2 separate regions of the Homo sapiens genome follow, and region 2 is linked to region 1. The links come from fine-mapping of genetic effects on gene expression. A gene starts in region 1. The other region holds a variant in brackets. All regions are shown on one strand. Distances are from middle to middle. Region 1 holds the start of CHD7 (chromodomain helicase DNA binding protein 7). Region 2 overlaps CHD7 (chromodomain helicase DNA binding protein 7).

Region 1 (2,913 bases):
CCAGAATTCTTTCTGTACTGTCTTCTATGTTCTTTTTGATGATCTGTAAGCTCCTTAAACATTAAAACATTTATTTCTTTTAGAACAAAACTCAAATACATGATGAAAGCAAGCTAAAAGCAGTGCATTTAACAAACCACAATATAATGTGATATATTTATAGAATTATTACTAAAATCAGAAAATCAATGTCTTAGTGATTAAGTCTAGGATAATCAAACTTATTGAATAGTTGCAGTAGTTACTTAATGAGATAGTTTTGATTAATCTTTTGTCCAAATAACAATATTGTGATTACAGGCTTAGCACTACAGGTAGTGTAACCATCAGTGAGTGAGATTAGTACATTTTACATAGTTTTGCTATTTTCTCAGTTTATTTTGGAGTCCAGTAATAACCAGTCAGTCTGTACCTGCCATAGGGCAATCTTTGGTTGATATGAGTTCCTTTCCTGATTTTAAAATAAGTGCAATCTTTAACCTAATAAAATTATCTTAAAGTTTACAATTGATGGTTTAAACACATTATAATTGCTCCGTATTTTGCAGATAGAAGAGGCTTAATCCATGTTTGTAGATCTATTTCCTAAAATAAAAATTAGTAAAAAAAAGTTTTTTTTCTTCAGGTTTAACATTCATTTTGTACCGGGAAGAGAAATGGAATAAGAGGCTCGGATTTTTAAGACTATGCAATCAGATACAAGTGCCATTTTGGCCAAAGAATGAGTAAAACATTCTAGTCCCGACACGTTTAATAATGGGCATACATCCTATTTCTTTGTTTCATAATCATTGAGCTCTCTGCCTTCTCTCTCTTTTTTGGTATGGTAACAAATTCGACAAAATCAATGCCATCTAGTTAAACTTTTTGATTAAGTAGTGGATCCGGTGTCCTATCCACGAAGAGGTGGGAAAAGCGATGTGGAGAAGCAGGCACGAACCCATCTGGAATGGAACATGTCCCTTCCGAATAATTTCATGTGGGAAAATAATTTCAAGTTGAAGGATAATTACTGCAGAGACTGCCAGTCACCCCCGGCCGCCGCCGGCCGCGCAGCGTCGGAAACCCTTCGCGGCAGCCAGGAGGGTCGCAGCCCTCCCGGAGCCCCGCTTCCTGCCCCGGGGCGGCGCACCCGGCTCCGGGAAGGTGCCGCGCGGGAGACGTGGCAGCAGCCCCTCCAGTCCGCGCCCGGGCGCAGCGGCCGAGCGCTCCGTGCAGCCGGGCAAGGAAGACTCCGCGGCAGCAGCGCACCGGCCGGCGGGGAGACCCGCCTGAAGCGCCGGCGCCCGCCAGGGGACGGGAAGTGGCGCCCGGCCCGCCCTTGCGGCCCGCGGCCCGCGGCCCAGCAGCTCCGCGCCGCCCCTTTTCTCTCGGCCTCTCCCTCGGCCTCCGCCACCCCGGCCGAATTCTTGCATAAATTATGCCAGGCGCGCCTGACGTCAGGTGGCGGCGCGCGGGCGCGGGCGCGGGCGCGGCGCGGCCCGGAGGGAGCTGGCGGCGGGCGCGCGCGGCCCCGCGGCTTCGGGTGCGCGCGGCGTGCCGGACGCGCGCAGGCGCTGGCGTGCTGGGGCCGCGGCGGCGGCGGCGGCGGCGGCGGCAGCGGCGGCGGCGGCGGCGGCGCGGGGGTTGAGTCGTGGTGGTGCGGACGCGCTCGTGCTCGGGAACTATCGGATTAAACTTGAATCGAGTGAAATTACACAAAGGAGCGCCGCGGAGGAGGCGGCCCGGGGACCCGGACACCCTGAAACTCACCAGAGACCCGTTCGCCCCCGGCCAACTCCGTGCCCGTGGATTCAGCCCCCTGGCCGCAGCTGCCGAGCCAACTCCGGAGCCCGCTCTGCGTTTTGTTTTCCCCTCGGCACTAGGCAGCGGAGGAGCCCGACCGACCCGGTGAGCGCGAGAGTTCGCCCGGCGCCCCCGGGAGGGGCGGCGGCGGCGGCGGCGGCAGGAAATCGCTCCGGGCCGGGGCCGGGGCCGCGCTAGGAGTTGGGAGCGAGGAGTTGGGCGTGTGCGGGGCGAGGGGCGAGGGGCGAGGGCGGGAGGGGGCCGGGGCCAGCGCAGGAGCGCAGCGCCGCCCGCGTAGTGTCGCCGGCGTCGCCGCCCGCGGGGCCCGAACCCGCGCCCCGAGCGCCGCCCGGCGCCCCAACTTTTGCCTGCGTCCGCCGGGCCGGCGGCGGCGGGGGCGCGCGGTGCGGCCGAGGGTCACTTCCTCGCATGTAAATGGCTTTTTGTTGTGCTGCCGGCGTGGGGGGGGGGTACGGGGGACAGGAGGGAGCGTGTCTGCGCGCGGGGGAGCGCGAGCGCGTTTCCTCCCGCCGGCGCCGAGCACGAGTTGCCGGCTCCATTCGAGAGAAAAAGGAAGGAGGAAAAGTTGGGCTCCAACTCAAGTGCGAGCGGGCGATGGGCGCGCGGGCGCGGGGCGGCTGAGCAGCGGCGGCGGCGGCTCGGGGACGGCGGCGACCCCCGCCTCCCGCCCCCGCCCCCCGCTCCGGACCGACCACGCCGCGCTCGCCGGGAGCTGCGGCCGCACCGGCGCGAACAAAGTGCGTTCCTCCCGGCGCGGCGGCGCCAGCCCGCGCGGGGACCGCCACCGAGCGAGGTGGGTCGGCGGCGGGGAAAGTGCGCGGGGCGCCGCGTGGGGCGGGGGCAGCGCGAACACGCGGCGCGGGAGGCGTCCCGAGCTCAGCCAGTGCCGGTCGCGGGCGCGGAGTTGCGAGCCCGGAGTTGGGGGCTCCTGGGGCTCCCCGGCGGCTCCCAAGTGCGCTAGGAGGAGAAGAAAGGGAGCGGGGCCGGGGCGAGCGCCGGGAGGCGCGGCGAGGAGGGGACCCCACCTTGTCGAGCTGGCCGGGCCGCCGGCGGCGGCAGCTGCATAATAGCGACTTTAACCTTCCAACGCAACTCGGCTCCCCCGCC
Region 2 (2,913 bases), 60 kb after region 1:
CTTTAGTTCACATCTCAGAAAATGCTGGCCAATAGGGCACTGAGTAGAAACTTGAATTACTATGTCTCCATTATATGCATAGGTACCGTTTGCTACATATTCTCACATTTAGTTAGACTATTCCTCATCAGAAGTTACCGAGGAGTATTTTGTAAAATGGCAACCTATATTTTTAATAACATAAGCCCTGAATCTTAGTTCTTATTTAAGAGATGCATCATTTACAGATATATAAGCTCCATGAGGACAAGAGGGAATTTTGTTTTATTCACAGATCTCTCTCCAGCTCTTAGACTAGTGCCTGGATCATAGTAGGTGCTCAGTAAATACATTTTGAATAAATAATTGTGATTTGAGAGTTAATTTTTATGTAACACCAAATAAAACATAAATGCAACTTGAATGTTTATTACCCAGGTGATAATTATGAGACTTTAAAAAATTTCATTGCTAATTTGTTATTTCTGTTTCTTCTTTTTAAATACTTTATGCTGTCCAGTATGGAAGCCACAGCCCCATATGTCCATTTTTTCACTTGAAATGTAGCTAATAGGAATTGAGATGTACTGTAAGTGTAAATTACATACTGGGTTTCAAAGACTCAATACCAAAATACGTAAACTAGCTTATTCATTTTTTTATATTGATTACCTGTTGAAATGACAGTATTATGCATTTATTGGTTTAAATAGAAATTGGTAAAATGGATTTCACTCTTTTGGTCTACTATTAAAATGTAGCTACTAGAAAACTAAAAATTACATGTAATAGCTCGCATTTGTGGCCCATTGAACAGTGTTCATCTAGACACAGAAAATCTAGATATTGAGTGTAGACGAGAGGGAAGCTTTCAAAATAGGGCTTTGAATGAATATCTTTTATAGAAACACAAAATTATACAATGCAGCTGCGACTTGGGAAAGTGGGCATTCAGATGGTCTTGATCAAATTTAAAAAAAGGACCAAAACAAATTAATTAGATTATCTCAAATCAGAAATATGAAATGCAGCTACCAGATGGATTCCTGGCATAGTTGCCAGCTGGGTCTTGAGGTCAGAAAAGGGGCAGGAAGGCGTTGGTGGCTGTCCCAGTGAGCGGTCACTAATGGCAGACTGCAAAGCCAGTTTTTGAACTTCTCTGCCTGGACCTTACCTGAGCATGGTTGTAGTTGTGCCGAGCGACATGCTTAGTTGATACCATATAATGCTGGCGTTTTTCAAGCGTCTGGGAGATGGACACTTAGTAGAAGGGCGTAGGGAACAGGAAGAGGAGCACAGCCAAGGATCAGTATGGGTACTCTCAGGCAGGGCTGTTTTTCCCTACTCATGCGCATAGGCAACTTGTCCCTCTTCTGAATCTTAAGCTGATAAAAAGTTAGCACCAACTTCATCGCCACTTCTCCAAGCTTGATCTGACTCTGCCTCTGCCTCTGAGCTCAGTGGGCTTGCAAGAGAAGGTCACCAGTGGGCTAAGCCATCCACTCCCTCTGGGCTCACTTTTACCTGGA[G/A]CTGGCCTGGAGCCCCATCGAGTCAGTAGCATTTCTTCCCATAACAGTTGGCGGACCCTGGAGGATGAAGCTGCTCCCCAGGACACATATGTAGACGTTACTTTCCTTAAGCTAATTTGAAAGGTTATTTTGGTAAGTGGTTGGGCTGCATGGCTGGTTTAAGCTATTATCAAGTCCATTCCAGTATTTATTTCTTTGAAAGTTAGAATGAGCCTTGAATAAATGATGACTGACTGCTTAGCCTTCTTAGGAGTGTATTTAAGAATATTTGTTGCAACTGGCACTGGAGATGTCTACTTCTCTTTATTTTGGATTTTAAAATAGTTGTATAGTAAAGCAGCGTGTTTTCAGTAAAATAGCTTTCATGCTCACCTTATTTTCACCCATCTGACCTCTGTATTTGGAGAAAGTAGATCAGAAAATTCATGGCAGTTAGCGGCAGAGTGAAGAGACCTTTGACTTTAGTTGACAGCTGTCACCTGAAAACTACAGGCCTGGAGACCCTCTCAGGTGTTATGTCTGTAGTTCTGACAGTGAACAGGAATGTTGTTTACATTTTCTGTAAGCAAAATTCTCCCCTTGTTAGGAATGTGTTAGAATACGGCAGGCAGAAACAGAATTTTTATGTGTCTTACTGGTAAGTTCTCAGGAGTGTTGGTTAGCCCATTGTTCATTCCCATGCTCTTATGGAAGGGTGTCAGTAGAATTTATGACTGAGCCTGTTTTTATCATCACTTTGGAAATTCTTCAACAAGATATTGTTTTTTTCAAGTGAGCTAGTATCACACAATGCTTAATGTCCTTATAAAAGAGAAAAAAATGAGTTAAATTCCAAAGATGTTTAAGATTTCAGTCATTTTCTCTATATGAATTAGGTCTTTATTAGGCCGTTGATTTAATTAGTGTTCAACAAAAACACTTTCCTGTTTAGATTGTCAACGCATTCTTTAAATTAGTTATTTTAATCTGACACAGGATCTGTTAGGAAGAGTTTGAATAAGATGCAGCATGTTACATAGTGTACACAGTGCGCTGGAAGCACGTAGGGTGCGAACACAAGTGCCTGCCAACTTGTCTCCCTTCCTGCTTAGGTCCTGCCTTGTCCCAAAAGGACTTAAGGCAATGGTGAGGAGAGCATATTTTGAACTTTATTCTGTAAAAATAATTTTCAGTTTTGGAGAAAGTTGTATTTCTAGTTATGAGAATAGTTGGTGTCCACAAAGTATCCACTCAACTAGTTTTCTCTGAGTGGTCACGTGGGATTCTGGTCCACCAGAGCCCAGCATGCCTGCGGGTGAATAATGAGCCTGGTGATTGGGCTGCTCTGTGTCAGTGCAGACTGGGACCATGGTAGGCTCAGAGCCATGAGTGAAATTGGTCGTCTTGGACAATGAAAGCTTTTCTT

What was found.
Region 2: its variant is fine-mapped to the expression of CHD7 in whole blood (INTERVAL, PIP above 0.99).

What each region holds. Positions count from the first base shown.
Region 1 is chr8:60,677,193-60,680,105 of GRCh38, forward strand. CHD7 (chromodomain helicase DNA binding protein 7) reads left to right here and starts at 1,548. Exons shown (of 38, transcript NM_017780.4): 1 at 1,548-1,890. RefSeq lists silencers at 1,096-1,535, 1,896-1,995, 2,656-2,913.
Region 2 is chr8:60,737,640-60,740,552 of GRCh38, forward strand. All of the region lies in intron 1 of CHD7 (chromodomain helicase DNA binding protein 7), which reads left to right. Among named protein-coding and RNA genes, the nearest start is that of CHD7, 60 kb to the left of the region's middle. The variant G/A (reference allele first, on the strand shown) is at 1,509.